3 separate regions of the Homo sapiens genome follow, and regions 2 and 3 are each linked to region 1. Evidence: fine-mapped expression QTL. A gene starts in region 1. Each other region holds a variant in brackets. All regions are shown on one strand. Distances are between the middles of the regions.

Region 1 (11,168 bases):
TACACTACAAGAAAACTACAGTCTAATACATTTGATGAATATAGACGTAAAAATCCTCAATGAAATGTTAGCAAACCAAACACAACAGCACATTAAAAGAATCATATACCATGACCAAGTAGGATTTTTCATTGTGATGCAAGGATGGTTCAACATATGACAACCAACCAATGTAATATACTGCATTAATAGAATGAAGGATAAAACTCACATGGGCATCTGCACAGATGCAGAAAAAGCACTTGACAAAATTCGATACTCTTTTGTGATAAAAACTCCCAATAAACTAGGTATGGAAGAACCTTATAGCAAATTAGGTAAAGGAAAAACAAAATAAAGTCCATTTATGAGAAGCCCACAGCTAAGATACTTAAAGATAAAAAACTGAAAGCTTTCCCCATAAGATGAGGAACAAGGCAAGGTTGCCTACTTTAGCCTCTCCTATTCAGCGTAGTATTTTAAGTCCTAGCCAGAATAACTAGGTAAGAAAAATAAATTAAAAACATCCAAATAAAAAGAGAAGAGGTACAATATCTGTTTGCAGATGACATGATCTTAGATGTAGAAAACCTTAGGGACCCCAACAAAAATGTGAGAATAAACAAATTTGCCTTTAAAAAAGAAGGAAATCCTGCCATTTGCAACAACATGGATGAACCTGAAGGACATTATGCTAAGTGAAATAAGCTAAACACAAAAAGACAAATACTGTATTATCTCAATGTATGTGAAATCTAAAATAGTCAAATACATGCAAGCAGAGAATAGAATGGTGGTTGTAAGGGAACATGGGGAGAACAAAATGGGAAGCTGTTGTTCAAAGGGTACAAAGTTTCAGTTAGGCAAAATAAATAAGATCTGCAGGTACAACCCAGTGTCTGTGATTAGCAATATTGTATTCTTAAAATTTTGCTAAGAAGTTAGATCTAATGTTAAGTGCTCTTATCACAAAACGTGAAAAAAAGATGAGTAGAAGGAAACTTTTCAAGGTGATGGCATTGATTTCTTGTAGTAATAATGGTTGGATGGTTTCACAATATCTACTTATCTCCAAACAGAAACTGTATACATTAAATGTCTATAGCTTTCTGTATGTCAATCATACCGCAATAAACAGGTTAAAAAATGAAGCAGCACCAGATCCCTGTACACACACCTCTAAAAATAGTCCCTTTGTATATAAAGCACCCCAAATTTTCTCCTTCTGAGTGTGTTATCTACTTAATTAAGGGCCTGGACTACAAAATCCAAGTTTTCACTTTTCACCCAAAGTTTTCCATTCTCACACACAGAATTTTCTCGTTCAGTTAGCAGATGCAAGAAGAGAATTTCAGATATTAGCTTTAAATACTACATTCTTGTCTATACCTGGTATTACTAGCTCTACCTAATTCATTTTCTTTCTTACCATGAAATTATAGAAACAAAAAGGTTACTGCAAAACACTTATAAACATATTGTCAGCATGAAATAATTATAATTATCCTATAATAAATTGTACCTTTTGAACAATTTTGGTCACTTTTTGATCTTCGTGTATTAATAAGTTAATACATGTAAATCATAACCAGAAGGGAAAATCAAAACATTCCACTTACCAAGTAATGATGAAAAAGAGAATGTGTGTGATTTAGTTAATTTAAAATATTATAGAAAGCAACAAATAACAGAAATGGTATCTGGGATAAAGTTCCTGGACCTGGATAAGGATGTTTGGTGATATCTCAAGCTGTTCAACACCTTTGCACATGCCATTTCTTCAAGCTTGAAGAGATACAGAGCAACTCCTTCCCTCTCCCATTCTCCATCTGGCTAATACCCCTCGGCATCCTGCTTAAATGTCACCACCTCAAATAAGTCTTAGATCCCAAACTAATTAATCCCCCTCATTAATTTTCTCTAATAGACCCAGTTCTTTTCCTTCTTGGTACTTATCATAATAAAGAACCAAAATCTGTGCCAAGGGTCCAAAATAGCACTCTACCTGAAAAGCAACACTTAATCCTTGTCATTTCTCAGCTCTATTTCAGAATGAGCTGGGTTACTACCTGGGGTCCCATAACGACCTATATCCCAATGGCCTAGAAATAGAAGGAATACACCGATTCCCCCTCTTGATGCTGATTCTTCACTTTAATAAGCCACCACCATTGTCAGTCAAGATGTTTTGCACTGTCATCGGTCCCAAACTCCTGCTGGTTAGCCAGCTGTCTACTTCCAAGAAGAAAAGGTGAACACAGAAAAAAAGGCAAGAAATTCAAAATATCTATGCTTTTTACAGAAAGAGTAAATGGTACAATTATTTTGGAAAACTTACTGGTGATACCTACTAAAAGCTGACATACATGGGGCCTATGAAACAGGAATATGACTCTGAAGAATGTACACAACAGAAAAACACATACGTGAACCAAAAGATTTGAACGAACTGAGACTTTAAACAAAATGATTCATTTTTTAAAAACTGCCCCAAAAGTAATAGCATGGAATTTATTTCTAAATGACTAATTTTCTTGCATGGAGTGGGACTTTCATTAGATTATCAAAGGAGATTTTTCCCAAAGAAGAGTCATAAATAGGTATATAAACGATTAAGAACCTTTGCTGGAAGGAGGTAAGTTTCTGAACTATAAAAGTCTAGTCAGCCAGTAACGTGAAACTCAATAACTTACATAAAAACATCTACCACAACTGTCCATGGACACTTCATAGAAGAAAAGTAATACATAACAATACCTTGAGTAATGAACCCTTTGAGAATGAAGCTCCTTTAAAATGAAGTTATCACATTAAAATGAAGTCATTATATTAAAATGAAAACAGAACAATTCATAAATCAGGTGAAGCTGGGTTAGTGTGATCTTTTCCTCCAATTCGCATTACCCAGCTGTCCAGGATACAAATCATCCCTTTACACACCGTTTCTCTATCTTTAAATAAGGAAAGGTAAGAAGGTCACCGATTTACAAAATCCTAAATTTAGTAAGCTTCCTACTTTAAGCCCCTCGCCACTCATTTCCACAGCCATTTCCCCAGGGTAGAGCAACTGCTCCCTCTTTATGAACCTACCTTTCTGTTCCTAGTCTCCTTTATCAACATGGTAGGCAACAGCTTATTGAATATACTTTATAGACTTGTGCATGCACATTTTAGTCACTATTTTTCAGCCAATAAATTACTTCAACTAAACATTTACATTTCTAGACAGAGATAATTTTAGGTACTGTCAAATGGGAGATAACTAGAAAAAGAGAAAGTCATCCTGAAATCACATTATACAAAACACTGGCCAAGAAGGTAAACCCTATTTAATATCCTTTAGACTGACTGGGGGTAGATGGACACACGGAAGCCTAAAAGGGATTTCCCAAGATAAGCCTTTACTTTCCTGAAAAACATGAAGTGAGGACTACTCTGGCTTTAACCGCAAAAAATGTATTCTTGGATTTTGCCACTGGCCAATATAGTAGGTCTGAGCTTCTTTCGGGTTCCAGACCCATCTATCGTAACACAATTCTTCTAGGGATACCTTCTTCCCAGTAACTTTAATGTAAATTCTATGTCTTTCCAGACTTCCTTTAGTCCTTCCAGATGTATATTCCATTTTCCCAGTGCAAGTAATTCTGTTTTACGTAACACTTTATGATATCTTCTCACCTTTCCTTTTTCTGACATTTTGGAAAACATTTCAGTGTCTCTTACATGATTTCTACCTCTGATAATGGAATTTCTGACAACAAAGTTATGTCTCTCTTCAGTACCAGTGAATAAATATTTTGAAGAGTAATACAAGCAGAGCTCGTGAACGAGGTAAGTGATAGGAGACAGAAAAATAAAGGGATTTAAAATTGGGATTATCACAGAATAAAATTACAGCTACTGCTCTACATTCTCACAAAGGGCTTTACTAAGTCTACTATAAAATTCAAAAGCCTTAAAAACAAGACATTAAAAGAAGCCAATCTATTACTTATGTACATTTTAACACCTTACTTTCATTAATGAAAAATACTTTTAAAAATTTAACATTTTCAACTTATAGCACTGATCAAAGGCAAACTAAGGAAAAAAGGAGATACCACTCAGCTTGCAGCATAGATTCAATAATAAAGAAGCTCTCAATATTCCTTTCTAGCTTCCTTCCTTGTCTACAAGTCAGATCTGCGCAATTGAACTTGTGGGAGAGGTTGTGAAAATAGTGTACTCTAGCAGTTTAGGATTTTCAACATCGCTCAATCTCATTGCTGTTAGAGGTCATTAAAACAATGCCTCCCAATAGAATGTCACTGGACCAGAGTGATTTTTGTTTAGAATGAAGCAACTACACTGACTCTAATAACAGTCAATGGCTAAGAGTTTGTGACATAGCACATAATGCTCGATATTATCTAAAAACACGTATCAAAAACAAAAAAGTAAAGATGAGAAAAACAGTTTATGAAACTGCAAAAGATATTAGGGAAATACTTCTCTAAGAGATAGGAGAAAGGTCTGAGAAAGGCAAAGCATCGAGAAAGCTGGGCGGGAGTGGGGAGGAGTAAGGGACAAGTAAAGAGTTCAACGGGACTGCTGTGTTCACACATAAAATTAAAAGGTCTGCAGATAATTCGGGAAAAAAACAGTCTAGCATGGCCATAATTCCAGAGTAAAAGAGAATAACAACTTCAAGATTAACTTGTTACAGTGAGGGAAAAATCTGTAGCCTTCAATAAAGGTGGAGAAATATTTGAAAAGCTGGGGAAATGCCAACAAGGAAAACACGAACTGCTGTCCTGTCTTCCTTATAGTCAGGAGCCGTTTGTATCCTCACCCCAGAGGATCCAATAGGAATCAGTAAGCCTATAACTTTCCAACCCTAAGTCACAACCTAATTCTGATAGGATGAGCTACCACGATACTTCCCACTTCGTTGTGACTAAAAGCATATACTAGTTGGGTATATAAGCAAGGCTCCCCTCCCGCCATTTGATTTAAAAGAATGAAAAGGCGGATCTGGTCATTCGTCTCCGCCCGGGGTCTCTGTAAGGACGGCGGAGAGAGGCGACCTCCGCCCAATACCAGGCGCAGCCTTGCCGTCTCCTCGGGGCTCACCAAGCAGCCACCAGCAAAGAAGCCGGTTTCAAAGGCCCAGCACGACAGGGAGAGGAAAACGGAGCATATGCAACCATACACAGTCACCAGAGTCCAGCCTCCCGCAACCAGTCGCTACAGCCAGGCGCCTGCGCCCAGAAGCGCTTCTCGCGCCGACCGTTTGTATTTGGAATTGTGGGTTCCTGCCCGCCACGCACCACCGCAAGACCTTCAAAGCTGGGAGCTTCTCTGTGCTCCAGGATTCCTCGCTGCCGATTCCACACCGCGTTCAAGACTCCTGTGAAGAGCGACTCCGCTGAGAGCCTCCTCAATGGCCAGTCCACTTCTAACTTGCAGCTGAGAAGTTTTTCTGATCTTGATGGTCAGAGTGGCTCGTGCTACGAAGTGAGAAACAAGGAATCTATAGCGAATCGTAAACAACAGAAATAAAAATGCGTCTCCGTTAAGAGTCGGAGCCTAACGTCACTTCCGGCAACAATAGGAAACGTCAAAATTGGGATAGTCGGCAGTTCTGGCCCCTGCAGCTGGAGGTACCCTGAGTTCTGAGGGTCGTAGTGCTGTTTCTGGTATTCTCATCGCGGTCACCTCTACCGGTGTGGACAAGTAAAGTTTGAATCAGCTTCTCCATGGCCTGGGCACCAGTTCCCGGCTGAGCCATTTTCCTTTTGGCTAAAAGTCCCCGCCCAGAGGCCAATTCGTCGCGGCGGCGGTGGAGATCGCAGGTCGCTCAGGTACAGGAGTCAACCTAGATATTTTAGATCTCTTGTCTCTTTTCCCTGTTCACCTTCACTTTTCTCGAAAATAAAGACAACCAGTGCTTGCCAGTTGGCCGAAACTGGCCGACCAGCAAGAGTTTGCGACCAATGACAGTGCGAAGCATCTTGAGTGACAGTAGTGGTGGCTCATTAAAGTGAGGAATCACTGTCAGGAGGCGGAACTGGGTGTGTTCCTTCTGTTTCTAGGCCATTGGGGTGTAGTTCGGTTTAGGACTCCAAGTAGTAACCCAGCGTCATTGTGAAATAAACCTGAGAAATGACAAGGGTTACTTTCTTCAGGTCCAAGTGTTGGTTTTCGGGTCGAGTGTTATTTTGGTTCCTAGACAGTTTTTGGTTCTTTACCACTTTCCAGTAATATGAATGCAAACACAAGTATAGTTAAGATCACGATGGATTGCTAGCTGCTACAGTAGTCAAACTTGGGTTATAAAACTTGTCAAACTTGTCTTTTATTTGTTTCTCAGCGACTGGGTTCTAATCTCTTACGTAGAAGGTTCTCAATATTTATTTGGCAAAATCACATAAATGGATCCCAATCCTCAGTCATTTAATTTTTTTAGTTTTATTTTTAGGTTCTGTATGAATTTACTAATAAAATAATTGATTCTACTTGTTTTACAAGTAAAATATTCATTTTCAAGGCTCCTAGGTGTATATCCACAAATGAATATATCATGATTTTTATTACGGTAAAGTGAAGACAATTTATGTTTTCTATTTCAGCTTTCCTCTTCCTTCTTTTAATGTTTGAAGTAATGTATTTCTGAGGTAGGAGCTCTACACACTTCTCAACTCTACCCTTCACGAAAATGATATGTGAAACAGAGTAGGTTTCAGAATAAAGAATGCATAAGTTTTATTATTTTTTTCATATTGGGTCAGAAATTCATCTTTAGCCAATTAACCTGACAATATGTCTGATGAGGTACTTCATTAGTTGTCTATTGCTGGGTAACAAATTACCCCCAAATTTACCCCAGCTTAAAACAACAAATATTATCAGTTTCTGTACATCAGGAATTAGGGTGCAGCGTAACTTCATTTAATAATAAGTTACAGCAAATTAACTAATATTACTTGGGGCCCTTGGATCAATTACTTCCATCCACAAAATATTATAGTAACTTCTAGATAAGCCAAAACATTGATCATAATTTATTACATATGGTCACTTTAATGGGGAATGTTTTGTGTGTTTACTGTTGCTAGGTTAAAAGATATCTTCCTCATTTTACAATATAAAAACATTGAATTACCAAATCTTTAATCACAGTGTGTTGAAATTAGTCATTCAGATTTGTAACTTTATGGTTTATTATTTAACCAACTGCTAATGTACAACTAATTTTTTCCTCATTTTGATTCAGATTTGGAAACTGGCACTATTCCATTGACTGACCCATGATAATGCATCAAAATCATTAATACTAAAGTCTAAGAATTATGCATTTAATTTCTGTTTCTTTTTCTTGAATTATTTTACTTAAATAATTTTTTAAACAATTTAAATGAAATACATCTATTTCTGGAAATTTATGTTCACTATTTCTTTTTCGTTTTGCTCTCATTGTTTTGTTTTTCTGACAAATTTCTTGACTTAGCTCTCTAATAAACTAAAACATTTTTGGCTGACTTGAATAAATTTATATCATATTTGGGGCAAGTATTTTTTTGAGACAGATTTTTATTCTGTTGCCCAGGCTGGAGTGCAGTGGTGCGAACAAGACTCACTGTAGCCTTGACCTCCTAGGTTCAAGCAATTCTCCCTCCCACCTCAGCCTTCAGAGTACCTGGGACCACAGGCACACGCCATCACGTGTGGTTATTTCTTTTAATTTTTTTGTCTGACTGTGCTGCCCAGGCTGGTCTTGAAGTCCTGAGCTCAAGCGATCCTCCTTCCACAGCCTCCCAAGGTTCAGGAATCATAGGTGTGAGCCACTGTGCTGGTGCAAGTACTTTATAGCAATATAAGATAAAAATATTTGTGGTTTGGAGTTTAGGCAACAGCTTTAGGGAGTTTAACCATTTAGTCAGCAGTTCGTGTATTTTTCAAGAATAGATTGCATAGGATTCATAAGCTATTTGAATGAAGGAACCAGATTTTAGCAAGTAAGCCAAGCTTGGAGAGACTCTATATGGAGTAGTGATTTGTGGAAGTCATGAATATAGGGAAAAAAGAGATGGAAAGGACAGATGTTAAATACACACACACGCACGCCATCATCTCTTCTTTTATTTATTAATTTGTTTTTCAGAGTTTTTTCCCTCATTTTATTTTTATGGGATCACAGAATTGTTTCTTCCAATTTTTAAATTGTAGTAAAATATACGTAACATAAAATTTACCATCTTAACCATTCTAAGTGTACAGTTCAATGGTATTAATTACATTGATAATGTTGTGCCACCATCAACACCATCTATCTTCATTACTCTTTTTATCTTGTAAAACTGAAACTCTATACCTATTAAACAATAATTCCCCTTCCCCATTCCTAGGTCCTAGCAATCACCATTCTACCTTTTGTTTCCAGTTTTGGAAACCGGAAGTGTTTGTATTCATATTACTGGAAAGTGGTAAAGAACCAAAACCTCATATAAATGGGCTTATCCAGTATTTGACTTTTTTTGACTGGCTTATTTAACTTGGCATAATGTCCTCAAGGTTCATCTTTGTTGTAGCATATGCCAGAATTTCTCTTCTTTTTAAGGTCACATAACATTCCCTTATATGTGTCAGCCACATTTTGCTTATCCATTCATCTGTTATTGGACACCTGGGTTGCTTCCATGTTTTAGCTGTTGTGAATAATGCTGCTATGAACATGGGTGAACAAATATCTTTTCCAGACCCTGCTTTGAATTCTTGAGGGTATATACCTGAAAGTGGAATTGCTAGATCACATGGTAATTCTGTTTTTAATTTTTTTTTAGGAAGCTCCATATTGTTTCCGCAGAGGCTGTACCATACGTATTACATTCACATTAACAATACATAAGGGTTCCAGTTTCTCCACATCCTTGCCAAGACTTATTTTTTTTTCGATAGTAACTATCTTAATGGGTATAAGGTGGTCCCTCATTGTACTTTTGATTTGTATTTCCCTAATGATTAGTGATGTTGACTGTATTTTCCTGTGCTTATTGGACGTTAGTGTATTTTCTCTGGAAAAATGTCTTTTCAAGTCCTTTACCCATTTTTGAATCATGTTTTTGTTATTGTTGAGTTAAAGGAGTTATCTGTAAATTATAGATATTAGATTTTATCAGATACATGATTTTCAAATATTTTCTCTCATTCGGTGGGTTGCCTTTTTACTCTGTTGATACTGTCTTTTGATGCACAATTTTTTTTTAATTTTCATAATGTTCAGTTGGTCTGTTTCCTCTTTTGTTGCTTGTGCATTTGGAAATCATTGCCAAATTCAGTGCTGTAAGCCTTTTGCCCTGTTGCCCTGTTTTTTCGTCTAAGAGTATTACAGTTTTATGTCTTAGATTTAAGTCTTTGATCCATTTTGAGTTAATTTTCATAGATAATGTTGGGTAAGGTTCCAACCTCATTCTTTTGAATGTGGATATGATTTCTCAGCACCATTTGTTGAAAAGACTGTCCTTTCCCCCATTAAATGATCTTGACACCTAGTCAAAAATCTTTTGACCATATATGTGATGGTTTATTTCTGGATTCTCTGTTCTATTTCATTGGTCTGTATGTCTCTTTTTATGCCAATACCATACTGTTTTGGTTACTGTAGCTTTGTAATAAGTTTTGAAATCAGAAAGTGTCTTCCAGCTTTGTTGTTCTTTTTCAAGTTTGGTTTGACTATTAGAGGTCCCTTGAGATTCCATGTGGATTTTAGAATTTTTTTCTATTAATGCAAAAAACGTCATTATAATTTTGGCAGGAGCTACATTGAATCTATAGATCACTTTGGGTGGTATTGCCATCTTAATAAGTCTTCCAATCTGTAACCACAGGATGTACTTCCATTTATTTGTCTTTCACTTCTTTCAGTAGTGTTTTGTAGCTTTCATTCCAGAAGCCTTTTACCTACTTGGTTAATTCCTAAGTATTTTATTCTTTTTGATGCTGTTGTAGTTGGTATTATTTTCTTAATTTCCTTTTCAGATTGTTTATTGTAAATGTATAGAAATACGACTTATTTCTGTGTCTTGACTTTATGTCTTTCTACTTTGCTGAATGGATTTATTAGTTGTAAGTTTTTGGTAGAATCTTTAGGGTAACTACAAAGGATTTTACTGCTTTCTTTCCAATTTGGTTGTCTTTTACTTTTTTTCTTGTCTAATTACTCTTGGAACCATGGAATTTTATAGCTAAAAAAGACCTTAGGGAACACCAGTTTCAAAACCCTTATTTTACAGGGGAGGAAACTGAGACCTCAAAATTTTAGTGACTTGGCTGATGCTCCCTACTAGCTAAGGAAGGAGACTGAGTCAAACTCATGTTTTCTTTCCATCAGTCTCTTTTCACTATTAAATGTTTTCTCATTTTTCACCTTCCTCCTATTTCTGGCTGCCTTCAATATTCATTTAATTTAATACCTTGTTTTATTTGTATAAAAGCAACTCAGTGAGAATTATGACTTTTGTTTTGGTTTTTAATTCCATAGCACTCATAGCAATGGCCTTTGTGGTTAGTGGGCAGGTGAGTATGTGTATACTGAGAAGGTGGGTTAGGATATGCTACCATGACTACAGCTGATTACAGCCACTTTAAGTAAATAGTGATACAATTAAGTAAGAACCATATAATTAAAAATAATGCTAGTGAGAAGTATGATACATTTATTTTAAAGTTTCAAATAGTTGGACAATGGAGCATTTCTTGAAAAACAAACCACAGAAATTGAATAAGCCTAAAATTCTTAGATTTTTGGTTGCATTTAAATAACACATCTTAATTTTTACATTTATTTAGTTGCCATTTTGGTAACACTTTTTATAGAATAAAATTAACAGGAAAAAAACCTTCAGGGAACAAAGTAATATTGTAAATCTTTTTGAATTAAAAAAAACCAAAACCTGCAAATGGTATGCCTTTTAGTAACAAAAACTGCTCTTGCAGGACCAGATCTTTAAATTTAATGAGTAGGGGCTTTTTATGTGTTCAATGTACCTTGTGACCTCTTAGTACTTAGCTATTTCCCTTTTCTCCTTAGAAAGACCTCCTTGTGGACTTACCCTTCCTTTATTTCTCTACATTTGTTGCCTTTAAATTTTAGGGATGTGATTGGTTATCAGGGTTTTTTTCTTTTTTAAAAAATTTCTCTACGCAGTCTG
Region 2 (11,168 bases), 19 kb before region 1:
GGTTGTTTTTTTCTTGTAAATTTGTTTAAGTTCTTTATGGATGCTAGATATTAGGCCTTTGTCAGATACAAGTTTGCAAAAATTTTCTCCCACTCCGGAGGGTGTCTGTTTACTTTGCTGATAGTTTCTTTTGCTGTGTAGAAGCTCTTTAGTTCAATTAGATCCCATTTATCAACTTTTGCTTTTGTTGGAATTGCCTTTGGCGTCTTCGTCATGAAATCATTGCCGACACCTATGTCCTGAATGGTACTGCCTAGGTTGTCTTCCAGGGTTTTTATAGTTTTGGGTTTTACATTTAAGTCTCTAATCCATCTTGAGTTGATTTTTGTGTATGGTGTAAGGAAAGGGTCTAGTTTCAATCTTCTGCATATGGCTACCCAGTTATCAAAGCACCATTTACTGACTAGGGAATCCTTTCCCCATTGCTTGTTTTCATCAGGTTTGTTGAAGATCTGATAGTTGCAGGTGTGTGGTCTTATTTCTGGGTTCTCTATTCTCTTCCATTGGTCTATGTGTCTGTTCTGGTACTAGTACCATGATGTTTTGGTTACTGTAGCCCTGTAGTATAGTTTGAAGTTGGGTAGCATGATCCCTCCAGCTTTGTTCTTTCTCCTTAGGATTGCCTTGGCTATTTGGGTCTTTTTTGGTTTCATATAAATTTTAAAGTAGTTTTCTTTAGTTCTCTGAAGACTGTCAATGGTAGTTTAATGGGAGTAGCATTGAATCTATAAATTGCTTTGGGCAGTACAGTCATTTTAACAATATTGATTCTTCCTATCCATGAGCATGGAATGTTTTTCCATTTGTTTGTGTCATCTCTGATTTCTTTGAGCAATGGTTTATAGTTTTGCTTGTAGAGATCTTTTGCCTCCCTTGTTAGCTAGATTCCTAGGTATTTTATTCTTTTTGTGGCAATTTTGAATGGGAGTTTGTTTGTGATTTGGTTCTCAGCTTGACTGTTGTTGGTAGATAAGATTGCTAGCAATTTTTGCACATTGATTTTGTATCTCAAGACTTTGCTGAAGTTGCTTATCAGCTTAAGAAGCTTTTGGGCTGAGAAGATCCTCCTACAATTATTTTAAACATACAGCAATTTTGCAAAAGGAACACCAATCTTTAAAAATTAAAAAAAGTTTAAATTATCACATATAATATATATATCAAAATATTACCATTACTAACATTACCAATAATTTATGTGTGATGATAAAATTGGGGTTATGACTTTTAAAACAATTCTTACATTTTAGGACAAGCGCTGAAATATTTATTAAATTATGTCTGAGATTTGATTTAAAATAAAGACAAAACAAGATTAGCAAAGAGTTGATAAATTGCTGAAACTGGATGATGGGTATGTTTGTAAATGTTTGAAATGTTCCATAATAAAAAGTTATTTTTAAAAAAGATTGCCAAATAATTCACTTATAAATAATCAAAAACTGGCTCTATGAGTAGGGCTCATTACAATTTTTCTGTTAAACAAACTGCAATTTATTAGACCTTCAGCTAACAATTCAAACCTAATAATGACAACGAAGAAGTCCTGACAAAAAAAGCATTAGGTCACGGTATGCATTTACCTAGAAATCCTCTACCTGCTTCCTATTCTACAGTTTGCATACACACTATAAAAACATATGTGACTCAGAAGCGCAAATAGGCATACTATATAAGGCACTGGGATAGGAGACAATTTGCTTTAATATTGACTCAACTTTTGCTTGTAAACAAAGAAATGTACTTGTAGACTCTTTTCTAAATCTGAGAACTTTTAATACTTATTCAAATTTCTGATAAAGATCTGGTATAAATTTTAATAGATAACAAAGAAAACTTTGCTTTAAGAAAATTAAAAATAAGTCTAATGTTTTGAAGTTTACATTTTTCTTGGCTAGGACAATTTACACTGTCCCCTCAACTCTCATACTGAAATAGAACATTGAAAAGCACATTATATCAATAAATAATTAATAAGTGCTCACAGTGTTCCTAATCCTGTGCTAAGCAAAATGAAGGTACAAAAAATCAGTATAAGAAAATCCCTGTTCATATATGTTCCTTCTAGTTGGGGAAGAATACAAGATATAAGTCATTTAACAGTTAGAAAATCATAAATAAAACTAACAAGAGTTAGATGAGTTAGAGATGCAAGTGTACAAAAACTACATGCACTTATTCAAAAATGGCGGCTTTGTATCATTCTTTATATTGTCTTCATTACCTAGAGCAAAACAGGTACATTAAAAAGAAGTGGCATAAGAACATTTTCTTATAATAAAATTTCACTTTTTTAAGGTATAAAGGAATAAACATATTTTTTTGAGATGGAGTCTCGCTCTGTCAGCCAGCCTGGACTGCAGTAGTACAATCTCGGCTCACTGGAACCTCTGCCTCCAGGGTTCAAGCGATTCTCCTGCCTCAGTCTCTCAAGTAGCTGGGGTTACAGGCACCAGCTACCACGCCTAGCTAATTTTTGTATTTTTAGTAGAAATGGGGTTTCGCCATGCTGGTCAGGCTGGTCTCAAACTCCTGACTTTAGGTGATCCACCTGCCTTGGCCTCCCAAAGTGCTGGGATTACAGGCATGAGCTACTGTGCTAGACCCAAGAATAAATTTTTAAAATAGATTCTGTTTACATAACTCATGTATTTTGGATTAGGGCAGAAATAATACTCTAGATTATACTTCAGTCAGAAAGTATTCACATCCTTTACTTAATTACACCATTGATAATTCATCTGATATTCTATCATTCAATCAGAGTCTTCTCCAGCTGGAAGACAGCTGAAAATATATTAATAAATAATATTTTAGCTTAAGTCTCCCTTAGTGATAGAAACACTGTAGCTCTAAGTGCATTAGATTCAATTTGCCACAGCTGCTCAAAGCAGATAATGGCAGAAAAATTATCTTTCAAGAAAGAGAAAATATTCAAAATATTAACTGAAAACCAGATTCTACGTGTAGGGACTACCAATTATTGGATAATTCATACTTGGTTACAGAAATATAATGTACATAAATGAATCATTATAACCTATCACTACTGCTAATGTAGGCTCTTCATATGTTCCCATGTTTTAGGAAGACCAGAACACAATTAAGAGCAAATGTAGATAACTGCATAAGATAATCTTCCTAAATCACTACTCTTCTGTTTAGGAAATCCGGCAGAATTAGAAATTAGAAATATAAAGAGAACACGTATTTAATTTTATATTTCTATCCTATTGTTATAACTTCAGGCATACTGCCCAAAAATATATGGCATGCACTGTTAAAAATCAATGAACTCCAATATCTAACTAGAATGTTCATCAGGTGCCAATCAGAAAAGTGAAAACTGTATATTGGATTAATTAGATAACTCTTAAACAATATGATATTTTCTTTGTGGTTGCATACCTTTCCTGAGGTCATAAACCTGCCACTGATATCAACGCCAACAGCCTCTGCAGATATTTTCTCATTGC[C/T]CAAAGGAGGTTCTGACTTACCAGAACTGATTTTCTTTCTTTGTTGTGATGGAATCTAAAAAAAAAGGTATTAGTCAAAATAACAAATTTTGTGTGAAAGCATAATTATATATTAAAATTCCATTAACATTTAAATTTTCATATATGAAATATAGCTGACAAATAATGAGACTCTAATGAGACTACATGACTTTTAAAAACTAAGAAGTAATGAAAATGTATTATGTTTGAACTATTAGTTTAACACTAGGAGTTCCCAGTCACAGGTGTATAAAACAAGAGAGTAGTATTTAAAATAAACAACAAGCTTTATAAGGTTACTCAAATCTTTGAATAATACAGTAATTACACTATGAAATAATTTGCTGTCTAGGGTTTTGATTTTATACATTAAAATACTGAGCCATCTATTAATAGCATACATCAGCATTAATATCTATTCATAAAATTACCTTCTGAAGACTGCTTAATTCCTTGTGCTTTTTCATCACACAATTCAAAATATCACAAACAATTTGGATTTTCCATTCTGCAAACCCACATTGGATAAACTGCTTTTTTGTCAAAATTGGTTTATAATTAAATTGATCACGAAGAAGCTGCAGAGGAAACAGACTCTTGTAATAATTGGGAGCAATTTATTTCTAAAATTCCAAATGATAATGCCCACCTGGTCAGGGGAATAATGGCCACCTTTGAGAGGACAAGGAAAACCAAGCCATTAACTAAAGAGTACTAAAGTAATTCATAGGGCTGGTGTTAAGTCATGATCCAGTAAGACAGGTATCAGGTGGAAAACAGGTAGCAAAGGATATGCTGGAGAACAGATGTCTGTCCAGAGAGATGGAAAAATATAGTCAATCATCAAAAAGTGTAAATATCTTCAGAGATATTAGAAAAACTTCTTAGTTCACTAGAATACCATACCAGAGTCAGAAACTATAGTTCTATTTGTTTATAACTCTTCCACTATGTGATTTTTGGATACGTCAGTAGGCCTTTTGGTCTCAATTTTTCATTTGTAAAATGAAAAAAAACACACTAGATCAGTAGTTTCCTAAATCTACTCTGTGGAGCTCTAGAATTTCTTAAAAGTGCCTCTTAGGCTTCCATGGATGTCTTCTGGGATCAAAAGCAAGAAAGAGAAAGATTAAACAGAGACTACATATAAAAGCTCCCATTTCATTGACTGCAACTCTGCTTTTTTTAAAAGACTATTTGAGGCTGGGTGCGGTGGCTCATGCCTGTAATGCCAGCACTTTGGGAGGCCAAGGTGGGCAGAGCACAAGGTCAGGAGATCGAGACCATCCTGGCCAACATGGTGAAACCCTCTCTACTAAAATACAAAAAATTAGCCAGGCGTGGTCACGGTGCACGCCTGTAGTCCCAGCTACTCAGGAGGTTGAGGCAGGGGAACTGCTTGAACCCAGGAGGCGGAGACTGCAGTGAGCCTAGATCGTGACACTGCACTCCAGCCTGGTGACAGAGCAAGACTCTGTCTCAAAAAAAAAAAAAAAATAGACTACATTTGATAAGTGGGTTTTTACCATTAAAAACTAACTTTAATACAAACCACAGTACTTAAGCAAAAATTAATGATAAAAGCAGGGTTTTAAAAAAATCAAATAAGAGATTAAATTCAGTATACACATAGTACAAGTATAAATACTAGGGTAGATACAATATAAGACATGCTCTCAGACCTCAAAGAATATATCAGTTTAATAAAAAAAAAATGTCAGTAATAGTTCCTTCTTACAAACAACTAAATTAACATATAATTCTAAAAAACTGTAAGTTTTATTGAATATAATTACATTACTCTCTAATTTCTGCCAGTATATCAAATTTTACTAAAATTTGATTAAAAAGGGCAAACAATAGCCAACAACAAATATTTACCAGTTGCTGTATTTATTAGAATAGGTAACATTCAAAAAGCAAACATGAATTGCATCTTGATTTCAATAGAGACTACATTTAAATGAGATAAATACAAATGAAAATATCCTGTCAATTGTATATGCTGCATATATTTAAGAAGTTATGACTAAATCATTAATTTTTAAAAATCATTCAATAACTAATAGTTATTGTTTGATAAACTCAAAATACCTTATAGACAGCATCTATAAAGCGCAAGTCATTTTTTGCTATGAGCTCTACATTGGATTCCATTATAAGTTCTGTTACATAAGGTGAGTATGAGGTAAAAGAATAGCTGATGATGGGCAAAGATGCTGCTGGGTCTCCCTTTATCAAACTGTTAGGAAAAAAAGAAAAATATTTTTAATAAGCATTTAATAAGCATAATTCCACAAAGTTGGATAATCAAGAAAATATTAGAAATGTTTATAATAATTTAAAACTTAACACTATAGCTATAATAATTAGGTGATACATGAGACTTTCTAGATTCCATTCCCCATTTGAAACCAGTCTAGCCAGACTACTATGAAATACCACTGTTCGTCTGCTCAAAAAACTTACTATAGGTCTCTAGTACCAACTATTTACCATTGATTTTCCAAAGCTTAGTCTTACGTGATCTACTCCATTTTCTACTACTAATAAAAGCAATGTACCATCTTACAAAATTGAAGTACACTTTATGGTTTTGCAAACACTTGTTCTATTACCTCCTTTGCTCTCTACCACAAACTTCCAAAGGTAAATATTATGAATTCTAAGTTACAGATGAGGAAGATGGGATGGGAAAAAGCATGAACTGTGACTTGGTTGACCAGTCTATTACTTTTCACTTACTGCTCCTTCTAAATCGTATATTATTACCTATGTTAATTCCACCAGTCTAGAAAGGTATCCCACTCTTCTTTGCTTATCCAATTATTATTTATTTTTTACAAATCATTCATCAAATCTCAAGCTTCCCATGAAGCTTTCCTCAACTTTCTGATCTATACTGATCTCTCCAAGAAAGACTCCCAGGCTACTCAGTATCTGCTGTGTCTTTATCTGTCTGGTAGTGTTTCCTGTCTTATTTTCTCAATGTGAAGTACCTTCACTGATTTTCCCACAACAAAGCACAGGAGGTATTTGTTCAATTTGCCAGTTACATTTGTTCAATTGCAGTATTTTGTACTTATATAAAGCAAATGTTTTCCAAAAAATTCAAGATGTTCACATAAACATCCCCATCTCCACCCAAATTTTTAGTAAGACAGAGAACAAATACATGATGATAGCACTGCATTTTGTTTTACTGGACAAATATGAATTATTTCTTTTATGTTTCTTTGAAATACTGTAATATTTCACCCAATCAGAAAACTCCTCTGGCAACCTTGTCTATCTGAAACACAGTCCAAAAACAGGAAATGAAAAAAAAAATACCTTTGAACAGCAAAATCTGTCCATTTTATGCACACTATACATAGATGATAGCCAGGCACACATTTAACACTTTTTATGTTAAACAATTTCAAAAATCTTGATTATCTAGTTCCTAAGGACTTAGCATATTAGAAACAGTAAGAAAAACAGATGCCAACACAAAAAACAGCAAATGGCCAGAAAACATAACAAATGTGAAAAAGTAGAAAAAAGAATCAAAATGATGGGGGTGTTGTGTGTGTGCTTAAATGTGTGTGGCAGGGAGACTAGCAATCTGAGTGCCTCTGTGGAAGAAGCAAGTAGCATTTCAAATCTCAATAGACCCTGCAGATTTTAGTATGTTATATAATAATCTAAAAATTGTTGTTCTTAATGATGCTTTTGGGTAATAAGAAAATTAAATGTTTAAACACTGTATTTAGAAAACAAGATAATACTGGTATATTTTAGAATTATTCCTATTTAAAATGTCTTTTAAAATGTTGACACTTAAAGTGGCAAGGAGAAGACTTGGCTACTCAAACTGGTTAAACCCCTGCAAGTTCTGGATGGTCAGGATTTTCATGTTTTGAGGAATCAAGATGATTTTTACATACATGGATTACATCTGTTTCATATCTTCTGCCTCTCACATATAATGCCTATAATAACAGCAACTTGAGCTAAACTTTCTCCTTACTCTCCTCTCTATCCTTTCACTTTCAGCCTTCTCTTGAGTTACCTCTCCCTACTGTAACCTCAAGAGTTATTAGAATATCCATTCTTATATGGATATCCATTCTTATATGTAAAGCCCATTACTGAAGGATTCTACTTACAAGTTTCCCTCTACTCTTGAACATCTAACTTGGACTTGTCCCTGGACACTCATTCATTCAATAAATGTCTAATCAACTCCTAATATGTGCCATGCATAATTCTAGATGGGGGGATTCCACAGTGAAAACAAAAAACAAAGTCCAAGACTTCAGCTTACATTCTAGTAACCAATGAACATTTAACCAATCCATCAATTAATCAATGATAAAAGGTTAAGGGTAAGTGTCATGAAGAAACAGAATTATGAAGGGATACAGAATGACTGCAGTACCATATTATATAGGCATGAATATAGGAAAATGTATGTTGCCATATTCTAAAAACGTTGTCATAGTTGCAAAATGGGAGCTAAAGTGAAAGGTTCAAAGTGGGGTCTGTTAAATGGGAGAGCTTAAGCGCAATCTTCAGGTTGCCATACACAAAAAAATCTACTAACTAGAATATTCCATATGAAAAAGAACACTCGACTTAAATGTATAAAATCTTTCCTCTATAAAAGAATAAACAAATAAATGATAAGAAAAGACTGACAAGAAATGGCAACAATCTCTTCTTATTCTGGATATATTTAACTGTAAGAAATATCATCCAACTGAATATGAGAGAATGGTAGATTATACAAATAATAAAATCTATTATACCTCTATGAGTTTAAAAGCTGTACAGAGATTATAACTTATACAGATAAATACTGTGCTTCTAAACAGTTTTAAATCTTTTAAGTTGGAATTCTTCATTAGTTCATACTTAGAAATAAACTCCTATAATTCCCTGCTTTCTCAAATATTTTAATCATTTCAAGGCAGATTTAAATAGGAACCAGGTAAAATCTGATTTTTCTCAGGTAGTCCCCCATGTTAAATATCATCTCAAATCACTAGCAAGAAGAATACAATTAAGTTTGATATTATAGCTTACCCTACACAGTCCACCTCTTCAGGATAATTTAGCAAGCGGAGCACCTGTTCTAGGTTCCGTAAGCTTCTTTTTAAGTCACCTGTTGCCATTACTTAACATCAGATTCAGCTCCAATTCTTGAAATCGTCTAATTTTTCACCTGAAAATAGAAATCCATGAAATACTGGTTAAGTCTCTGTATTTTTGAAGCTTCTTGATTCTATTTTGGTCATATCTCCTATTGGCACTTACCATATTTATCTTACCCTAGCTCTTTTTCCCCGAGCTTCTTCTCTACTACTCAAGTTCTACTTTGTAACTACTATAAGTTTCTGAATATAGGGTGTCTCCCCTACCCTCCTACATGTTTTCCTCCCAAAAAAATAAGTTTGCCTTATATTCATCTTATTATAATGTATCTTATATAACACTTGCCCAAATAGTTTTTTTTTAAGCATAAAGCACCGTTTGAGAAGACACATCAACTTGGAATAACATCCATCAGTGACTCTTTTGGATGCTTATAGAAGCTACATAACACAATCAATAAAAAATGGAGACAAATTTAGCGCAGATTTAATCAGAGTCACAGGGCTCTGATCTCACATAGTTGCCAAAAAGATACCTTTCCTAAAAACTAAAAATACATTTTAAAAATGCAGGGTTCACTTGGATAAATATGACAGATTAAATGCATGTTACCTTCCTTTCCATTTTCTAAAGATCACTAAAATGAAAGTAAATAATTAAAAATCATGGCTGGGCGCGGTGGCTCACGCCTGTAATCCCAGCACTTTGGGAGGCCGAGGCGGGCGGATCAGGAGGTCAGGAGATCGAGACCATCCCGGCTAAAACGGTGAAACCCCGTCTCTACTAAAAATACAAAAAATTAGCCGGGCGTAGTGGCAGGCGCCTGTAGTCCCAGCTACTTGGGAGGCTGAGGCAGGAGAATGGCGTGAACCCGGGAGGCGGAGCTTGCAGTGAGCCGAGATCCCGCCACTGCACTCCAGCCTGGGCGACAGAGCGAGACTCCGTCTCAAAAAAAAAAAAAAAAAAAAAAATCATATATACCCACCAGGACAAAAAGAACTACAGGAGATTTCACATAACAAAACAAGTATCAACAAAATTTTGGAAAATGAAAAGCAAATGAATAAGGGATAACCAACCTAGCAGAGCACAGACCAGCCAATCCCATCTGCCTAATATTTAGGAGGAAACCAACTGAAGCAAGATAGGTTCACAAATCAGGTACACTTGATGCTTCTGAAAGACAAAGGGGTAAGTCCAGGGGGCTGAAATAAGAATGATTATTTGAGAGTCTACATAAGAAGCAGCTAACCCTAGAATTTATTTTCCCTCCCGCCTCCTATCCCTACACACATAACTTGCTCAGCAAGGCAACTACCTCTCACCTTCCCTGGAAAGAGAAAAGAGCTTTACACTCCAAAGAAATTGAATCAAGGAGGCACTAAATTTGGTAACATCAGGCAAGGCGAACAATACAGAAGGAAGTGTTCGAAGGCAGAAAGAAGTATTAATGAAAACACACACACACACACACACACACACACACACACTAATAAAGTTTCTTCCTATATCTCAGCCTCAAGAAGCTGTTAGACTTACATCCTCTGTGACAGCAGACTATCAGGTTCTATGCTAGAGAAGGTGGATGGACCTAGAGAAAAAAGTATCACATTTCTGACATTTGAGGAAAATCCCCATTGAAAAGGGCAGGTCTTGCCCAATAAACCTGCAGCAAACTCACTTATTGATAAGCCCTAACCAGGCACCTTTTTTTCTTAGAGACTCATGTTTAAAACTGAATATATGCCCAAAGGTCAATAACTATTAGAGGGAAGCTTCAGTATGAAAAGTATATATAAATACCTTAAACAAAATAAGCAGAGAAGAAAAATTTGGTGGAAATAGAGATAATATAGAGAAAAAATTTCAAAATGAAGCTTTCAATTCTCAATGAGATTAGAAAAAAAAATTAAAACCTAAAACAAGAATAGAAGGATATAAAAAATATTAAGCTTGTGAGAATGTAAAATGAGCCAGAGATTGTTAAAGTGGATCAAAAATAAGATCTAACTACATGTTGTCTATAAGAAATCCATTTTGTTTATAAGATTAAAAGTAAATGGATAGGGAAAAATATACCATGCTAACATTAATCAAAAGAAAGCAGGAACAGTTATAATAATCTCAGACAGCAGACTTTATAATAAGGAAAGTTATTAGGGACATAGGGTCATTACATAAAGATAAAGGACTTAATTCTCCCAGAAAATATAACAATCTTTAATGTATATGCACCTGACAACACAATGTCAAGATATATGAAACAAAAACTGACAGAACCACAACGAGAAATATACAAATCCCCTATTTTAGTTGGAGACTTCAACACTCCTCTATGAGAAATAGATCCAGCAGGCAAAAAAAAAAAAAAAAAAAAATCAGTAAGGACAAACAATATCATCTATCAACTGGATATAACAAATATTTATAGACTACTTCATCAAACAACAATAGAATACATATTCTTCTCAATTTCACATGGAACATCCACCAAGATAGACTATCTTTGGCGTCATAAGGCATACCTTAACA
Region 3 (8,682 bases), 30 kb before region 1:
TTTCTCTCCAAAAAATGTGTAACTTTTCATCATTAAAAAAACAAAACACAACACCTCACTGTGTATCTTTTAACGGTGGCTAGAATGGCTACATTCTCTTTCTGTTACACTGGTCTTAAAAAGTGTTACGCCGGAGGCCAAGACAGGCAGATCACCTGAGGTCAGGAGTTTGAGACCAGCCTGACCAACACGGAGAAACCCTGTCTCTAATAAAAATACAAAATTAGCTGGGCATGGTGGTGCATGCCTATAATCCCAGCTACTCAGGAGGCTGAGGCACAAGAATCACTTGAACCCGGTAGGCAGAGGTTGCGGTGAGCCAAGATCGTGCTATTGCACTCCAGCCTGGGCAACAACAGCGAAACTCCATCCCCCCCTCCAAAAAAATTATACAATAGAGCATACTAAAATGTTCAACACATTTCTCATGGTGAACCTTGAGACCATAGTCCTCTTGGTCTAAACTTGAGGACCATAGTCCTCCAGCCTGTTTCCCAGTACAAAAGGAGAATCTTAACCTTAATTTCTCAGTGTTAATTGGAAAGGTATTGATGTTTTTGACCAAGCATGAAATAACTGCCTTTTTGTTTTATTTAATTTTCAATGAGCATTTTTAACTGTTCATTATAACTTATTCATCAGTACAGATGCCAAGATGGTATATATGAGAGCCTCCTGGGTATAATACACAAGTCCCATTTGGAATGTTTCCAACAGGATGTAAACCATAGTCCTCAAGCCTGTGCTTTAAAAAACATTACTTAGCACACTGCCAACAAATGTCAACACAGAAATACAGTGCTGTAATGACTTCACTCTGTAAGAGAAATATACTGGAACATGAGTTTTTCCTAAAAAAAAAAAAAGTGACACAAGGTAAAGCAGTATAATCATTGCTCAAAAATATTAAAAGAGTTATTCAATAATGAATGCAAAAATTCATATACCAAATGGAATCCAAATTGTCAAAAACTGCAGTATTGCAGTATATTAAAATTGTATAAAGAATTCTTAAAATATACAATATGTATAGTAACCAAAGTCCTAGAAAAAAGTTCATGTAGAAAATCCTACAAGTAGTGATTTGGACATTTCAGTAACTCTGCAGTTTCTTCAAACCTGAAATATAATAAATAATATATTAAGTAAATCAATAATTCATAATAAAGCATAGCATTTTAGTTGTTGAAATTATGCTTTTTAGCCTAAAATAAATTTGAATATTTTTCTTATCTATAAGTACAGTTACTATGAATAAACTTAAGTATGACCAGAGGGAAGACAAAGAGGAGTCGATTATGAGTCATATTCTTGAAGTGTAAGTTAAGTACTTTTTGCATTTCTAAATAATATTATAATTTTCTATAGTAGTAGGCTGCATAATCATCTTATATGCAATTTCATTTCATATTTCCTTTGAACTGCTCTTTAGAAAAATCACACCATTTGTACTAGACAAAAACATCATTTTTAGTATCTCATCAATAACTTGCCGAAAAACACCAGTGATATTTTCACAACACTGAAAATGTCTCCAAACCATCCATCTATATATATTATTTAATATTTTGATAAATCAGTTATCAAAAATAGATAATACTCTTGATTAGTTACCAACCAAAAATATCTTTGTATTCTCTCTGCAGTTAATTCCATTAACAATTCCAACAAGTTTTAAATCGCTTGTTGGAAACTAAAACAGTGACTCATCTCACAAACACATAACTGTAGGTGGATTTATTATCCAGTGGAGTCCTGAAGGAAATTCCACACCTGATTGAGAGACCTTTAAGGTTTGAAACACACATGCACATTCTATATATACTGTAATCCAATACAATTCCCTATAGAGAAATGAATTTCTGTTGCCCCTTTCTGTTACTTACATTTTTTTCATCCTTTCCATTTTCTGGATTGTTGTTTCCTTTAATTTAAAAAGCAACAAATTTAGATGATTTCTCAAAGTAAACCATCATCAAAGATGGACCGAGAATGTACAAAACACAGTTTGAAACATTGCATTAAGTACTGTTTACTTATGAAAGAATTTTGAGAGACTAAGATTCGCGTTTGCTATTTTTCTTGCTAGCAATATTTACAACAAAAGCTAATGCTTGCTTGTTTTCCTCATTTAGAAAGGAAATAATCTAAGCATTTTCTTACCTCTGAAATCTCATTCAAACCACAGTAATTAACAGTAGAGGCTCTGGGAGTTGAATCTGATGATGCTGTACTATAGCCAGAGGACAGAGGAATACTTGCTGGCCTCTCTACTTCGCTTTTTCTGTCTGTGAAGAAATTAAGTTTTAGATTACCTTTTCCTTTCACAGAAGAGTCAAATATCTAAAAATATTATTTACAGATGGAAGAAAAACATACTATTTTAATTAAAAATGGCTATCCGCATAGATCAAAGAGTTTTTAGTACTCTTAAGGTAACAGCTTTCATATGGAGATCTAGATGTTAAAAATTGCCCAATAAAAATTACAAAAGGCAGTATTATTATCATGATAGCAATCAGTTTGAATAAACAGGTAAGTTAATAATTTATTTTAAAATATAACCTATTGAATCAATCATGTATATTCTTTTCTTTTTTTTTTTTTTTTTTTGAGACGGAGTCTCGCTCTGTCGCCCAGGCAGGAGTGCAGTGGCGCGATCTCGGCTCACTGCAAGCTCCGCCTCCCGGGTTCACGCCATTCTCCTGCCTCAGCCTCCCGAGTAGCTGGGACTACAGGCGCCAGCTACCACGCCCGGCTAATTTTTTGTATTTTTAGTAGAGACAGGGTTTCACCGTATTCTTTTCTTAAAATGGTGATATTTACATTAAATAATTAGTATCCATGAATTTGTCATGATGCTTTTATTCAGCAACATTTAAGCATTTCACAAATTTTTTTACTACTGTTCTGTGGCAAGTGACAACTATTACTATAACTGACCATATATATCTTTTAAAAATCAAGAAACATTCTAACTTGATTTGACATATATGAAAATAAGTAATGCAAAAATTTAAGATCCACAGATTTCTTTTTCTAAAAAACGGAAAAACCTAACATTTCAAATATCCTGATAATATTAATTTGACAAAATGATGGCATCTCCCCTACAAAAATATCAATTAGAGAAGATTACGGATAATGTAATAAATCCTACAAACCCTGTGTTTCAGTCAGAATACATTTGGCTGCAAAAGCAATGCAAAAAAAAAAAAAAATTAGACACCCATTTAAATTGGTTCACATAAAGAGAGCTTTATTGTAAGCCTACACAGACAACCTTAATTGGGGAACAAACTATTACCACTGAGAACTGAAACAACTAGAAGACTAATTTTTATCTCTCATAGAGCCACAGTCTCTTTTGCCTACTTCTGCCATTTGCTCCATCCCTCAGCTCTTCTCTGTAGAATGGCTTTCTCTGCTGACTCATCAGCGTAAACTTCCACCACATGGCCAGCCCGGCCCAGGCTCAATATCATTTGACTAACTAACTCGTGGTGTCCTAATTCCAAATGCTAAGAGAGAGAATGTAATTTGACTCATCACACTTTGAACTGGAATTCTCTGGGTCAGGTGTCTACTCTTAATCCAATTAGCTAAGCCTGGAGGTCAAGATTACAGGGTGTAATTCTGAAGACTACCTAAACCCAGATCTTTTAGTAGGAGCTATGGACAAGAGGTTATTTTAAGAAATAATTTGAAATTAGGCAGGAACTATATCTACTATGCACTAAATCTTGGATTTTTTTCTGTGGGTACAGATAGTTGTCCTGAACATTTCGGACATCTTTCCAAAAAGAGGAGGGGGCCCTAGGAAAAGGAAACAGGTCCGGGAAGACAGATAAAGGGTGAAGGAATGGCTCTCTTTGTCTTCCATTTTGGGGTCCAGACTTTGCGGTGTCTAACCTTATTCAAGAGTGTGCCTCATGGTGGGAGAAAGCTGGTATTTGGCAGGCTGGCAGGCTATTCATAGTTATTCCTACAGAGGATTCCAGAGGCTACAGAGTGGACCATTACAGAACACCAGCTATATTTAATAGCCAGATCAGTTAACTGCACATTAATTTCTATATTTTTTCTTATTGCTATCCTGAACCTTTAGTAAAGCCTTACTTGTTTAAACATTAATAGTTTCTTAGCTGTGCTATAGGGGATTGAGAAAAGAATTGGTAACTGAGTTCAGGTTGGAAAGGAAAGGGGAAAGGCAATGGCCACTGACACAAGGACCCTGACACCAGTTGTTATGTACTTCAGTAGTGACTGCTAAGAAGTCTCTGTAAAGAAAGGGACTCTTCTACTTCTAAGATTATGGGGGTATGGGACATGAAATCTTCTACCCAACTCTTACCACGTAACAACTAATCTTTCACTGCCATCTTTGGAGGCTTATCACCTTATTCCACGAAGGGAATCAGTAGGGTCCTTTACCATTTAATAATTTGTAAGCCAATACTTCTAAATCAAGGACCAATGTATGTATCCAACTGATTTCTAGATATTCTGTCTTAAGGATTTCATATATAATTTATTATATTCAAAAGTGAACTCATTATTTCTCCCAAACCTTCTCCTCTTCCTGAATTTTTTATTTTATTAAAGAGTAACAATCACCTACCCAATCACATGAGCCAAACACAAGTAGTCAGTGTTACCTTCCTTACTCTCCTTCACCCTTTTTGTATCTATCAGGATCAAGGCATATCAATTTTAACATCTAAATTTCTCCCAAATAAATCACCTGCTCTTTATCCTCACTATCATTGCCTTAGTAGAGACCCTCATTATTATTCTGAAATAATGACTACTAAAATTCTCTTCAAATTATCCTTGCCTATCTTACTTTCCTAACAAATCACTATTCTGCTTTGATGATAACCTTTGTGAAACACAAACCTAAGAATATTAGCCTTGCTGAAAATCTTCCTACGACTCTGGGATAAACTCCATGACTTGATCTTTCTACTCTTCTGCTACAGCTTCCTTCAGGTGCTCACATGTACCCTTCCTGCTAGTCACACAGGAACAAACCACACTCTTCTGTGGTAGCACACCTTTTTTTTTTTTTTCCTCTGAGGGAAAAAAGGCACAAAACAAAGCGAAACAAACAAGCAAATAAAAAAGGAGCACTAACAGTTGGTGCCCTGTCTGGCAATTAACACCTAAACTACTGTACCCTCTAATGAATATAAATAATTTCATGAAAAAGAACATCACATGAGGTCACTTCATTAGCATAATGAAACAACACACCCAAAACCACCATTCATGTCCGAACATAGACAAAACAAGGGCACCATGTAACCACATAAATGAGCAGATATAGCCCCCCTTGCCTAACATGAGTACTTATTTTATGCTAAAAATTTCATTCTTACCATCAATCATCAAATTGCTCCTGCTCCCTGACAGCACCCGTAGCCCTTGCTTCCTCAAACCCTCTCCAAAATTATCCAACACAAGTCCAATCC[C/T]TAAAAGCCTCTGCTAATTCACTCTTACCAAGACATTAAGGTGCCTTACAATTCCCCATGGAACACTGTATTCCTGATAAAGGCAAAACAAATCTGGAACCTCACAAAAACTATTCCTGATTTAATATGATCCTAAACCCAGAGTAGTAAATTATTGCTCTCTGCATTCAAATGAAATCAAACCCTATTTCCAAGTAGCATGTATAAGGTATAATGTGTAAGTCTTTATAAACTTGAGTCTTTTAATTAATCTAGATCAGATCATAAACTCTATGAGACCAGGTATTCAACCTAATCATAATCTGTAATCCATTTCAGATAGAGGCCTGTTAATTACTTTCAGTCCTGGCACAGTTGTTGAAATTTAGCTATGTGAACCCGGACATGTTAACTCACACCTGTAATCCCAGTACTTTGAGAAGCAGAGATGGGAGGATTGCTTGAGCCCAGGAGTTCAAGACCAGCCTGAGCAACATAGCAAGACCTTGTTTTACTAAAAACAGTATGTAAATAAATAAAAAATTATCCAGGTGTGGTGGCACGTACCTGTAGTCCCAGCTACTCAGGAGGCTGAGAAAGGAGGATCACTTTAAGCCAAGGAGTTAACATCTAGGAGACTGCAGTGAGCTATGATTGCACCACTGCACTCCAGCCTGAGCAGCAGAGTAAGACCACACTTATCTCAAAAAAATTAAAAAATTAAAAAAAAAAAACTTAGCCATGTGTTTTCTAAATAGGTTAAAGGTATATTCTATAATCATGTCATTAAAAAAAAATAAGCCTGAGCATGCAAAATCAAACTTGAAAAAGGCAATGTTTTGCAAATCACAAGCATTCAATATTCTTTCAGTGAATAAATATTTAAACTCTACTATATGCAAATACTGGTGATAAAAGCACCGACATACTTTCTGTGTGCTAGACAGGCAGACCATAAGATAAAGTTTTTGCTCTCAAGGATCTTATACTCAAGCATTAACATTTGTTGAATAGATATATGAATGGATAAATAAAACAGGCAACATTTTACCAAATCTGAAATCTGCAGCCTATAATAAATTTAGTTGCCTTAAATAGCATCTCAAATAATTATACTTAACAAGCTAATCACTGAAATTGTTCTTTGTGCAATGATATTGATATGTGCTCCAAATATGCAGCAGTCAAGAAAAAACTTCAGATCAGTTGCCTGGATTCAAATTTGATCTACAATTCAATAACTGTGTGACCTTTGCTGTAGTTACTTAATTTTGCTGTACTTCAGTTTCCTCAACTGTAAAATATAAAAATAGTACTTATCTTGCAATGGTTACTTCAAGAATTAAATGAGTTAATATAGTAGTTAGAATCGTGCCAGGCACACTGTTAGTGCTAGAATATATATTATTTTATTGTTACACATATAGTAGAGCTGAAAGATTTTATAACGTTAACAATCCACAGATATTAAAAATTTAACTTAACGATGAATTCTCAATTGGACAAAACATCTCTTCTATAGCTATGATTTAATCATAGATATGGCACAAAATTTAGATCTTTTAAAAATACATAACAATCAAAACAAAGCTGTCACTGAAAAACAGAAATCTTACCCTTGCTGCTCAGTCACACTAAGCAAAATATCAGTAGCCTAGTAAAGTGACCAGGAAAAGACCTATCCTAATATCAGATCTTTCCCATTTTATCATTATCAGTGAACTATTCACATGGAAGAAGTTTGCAATACTTTATAGATACTGACAAATGTGTTTTCTTCTCTTACATATTATTATTTACATATGAGAAAGCTACTACCTACCTAAGCTTAAATTTAAAAACTTGGAGGCCAACATTAATATCCTAGAGCACTTGATTATTCTCGAATGATTAAAACAGTAAAATATCTCTAAAAATTTTCAATTTTGTACACTGAAATTTATTCACCCACTATGTTATGTGAAATAAGTAGGCTGGTTAGTTAAGCAATTCTTGGCTTTAGTAGTCTGTAGGTTCATTATGTTCTTTGTTCTAGGAGCTTTGCAATTTCTAAACAATAAAGCTTAAGAATATTAAAATTACTATAACAATCATTTTTCTGAAAACTCATCATACCAATTCTCATAGTATTTACAAACTTACGAGGATTCAGAAGGTCCATGTCACTACAAGAAGCGTAGTCTTCACTAACTTCATTAAACTCTATAAATTCATCATTCTGGAATAACACAGTTAAATATTTAGAATGAAATAAAAAGAAAAACCCTCTCATTTTATATTCTTAATGCTGAGCATAAAATATAAAGGTAGCATGATAAATGTTTAAATATTTTTAATTTTTTATTAAAGCAATACATATACTGCATATTCCTACATATAAGAAATGTTTTAAATATGGAAGCAGATAGCAAGCTACTTGACTTCACCTTCTAGGAAGGAAAGACAGACCAGAAATTGAAATCCTGAGTAAAAAAAAACAAATTTCTCAGATTTGATAAGGCAATGGTAAATCTGGTAACTATTCTATGAAATTCACAATATGATTGAAGTAAATGAGTGAAAAAAAGATGGGAAGAGTTACCTATATCTTCTGTATCTTTTCTACCCTATGAAAATAGGTTATTTGTACTATTAAAAGATATAAAATAATTTTAAGCTTTTCATATCTATCATATTCTTACCTCATTTTAAATTCTTCAAGCATTATTAACATCTGTAAAAGCTCAACTGACAAGTTTTTCAGATTATCTTATTCAATGAAGAGAGAAACAACAGCCACAACAACATACAGGCTATATTTAAACAGGACTTCATTCTAACTAGACATTTTCTCATTATTCAAATATTCTCATATTTAGCATTTCCAAAAAAATACACATATAACAATCAAAAAAAAACTTTGTTATATCTGAGATATTTTATAAATGTTAAAGGAGGAAAATACCTTTTTAGACAAAAGCATTTCTGTTTCAAGAAGAGTGACACGACTAAGAAGATTAGTCCAGGTGTTTTCATCTACCATCACTTTTCCTTTCATTTTTTGTTCCAAACAGTCTAACCTTTTCTCTATCGAAGTCAGTTTCTTAAGATTTTCTTGGCATTCAGCAAGCATAGTTTGTAGTGCAGTAATCTCAGGATTAACATTTACATCCTAAAAAGGTTAGAGAGATTAAAAATAAAATTAAACAAACTGAAATTTCTTTAAAATTAATGTATTCTCACTTCCACA

Which allele goes with the higher level. Alleles are on the strand shown, and positions count from the first base shown. SD is a standard deviation of normalised expression in the study named.
For the expression in minor salivary gland of the gene that starts at base 5,321 in region 1, allele T in region 2 goes with a lower level than allele C (small effect, 0.38 SD a copy in GTEx).
As copies of T replace C in region 3, the expression in ovary of the gene that starts at base 5,321 in region 1 goes down (small effect, 0.36 SD a copy in GTEx).

Evidence for each region. PIP is the estimated chance that this variant, and not a neighbour inherited with it, causes the effect. A credible set is the group of variants that fine-mapping cannot tell apart.
Region 2: its variant is the best candidate, but not a certain one, in a credible set for the expression of CEP44 in minor salivary gland (GTEx, PIP 0.61).
Region 3: its variant is the best candidate, but not a certain one, in a credible set for the expression of CEP44 in ovary (GTEx, PIP 0.86).

What each region holds. Positions count from the first base shown.
Region 1 is chr4:174,278,064-174,289,231 of GRCh38, reverse strand. It overlaps CEP44 (centrosomal protein 44), which reads right to left and starts at 5,321. Exons shown (of 12, transcript NM_001040157.3): 1 at 5,289-5,321. It overlaps FBXO8 (F-box protein 8), which reads left to right and starts at 5,565. Exons shown (of 6, transcript NM_012180.3): 1 at 5,565-5,822. RefSeq lists a silencer at 5,089-5,356 and an enhancer at 5,121-5,370.
Region 2 is chr4:174,296,610-174,307,777 of GRCh38, reverse strand. It overlaps CEP44 (centrosomal protein 44), which reads right to left. Exons shown (of 12, transcript NM_001040157.3): 2 at 9,716-9,812; 3 at 8,568-8,706; 4 at 5,592-5,739; 5 at 3,929-4,075; 6 at 3,409-3,531. The coding sequence starts at 8,656. Among named protein-coding and RNA genes, the nearest start is that of CEP44, 18 kb to the right of the region's middle. The variant C/T (reference allele first, on the strand shown) is at 3,477.
Region 3 is chr4:174,309,772-174,318,453 of GRCh38, reverse strand. It overlaps CEP44 (centrosomal protein 44), which reads right to left. Exons shown (of 12, transcript NM_001040157.3): 8 at 8,398-8,604; 9 at 7,596-7,671; 10 at 2,164-2,288; 11 at 1,887-1,924; 12 at 1-1,119. The coding sequence ends at 1,071. Among named protein-coding and RNA genes, the nearest start is that of CEP44, 30 kb to the right of the region's middle. The variant C/T (reference allele first, on the strand shown) is at 5,475.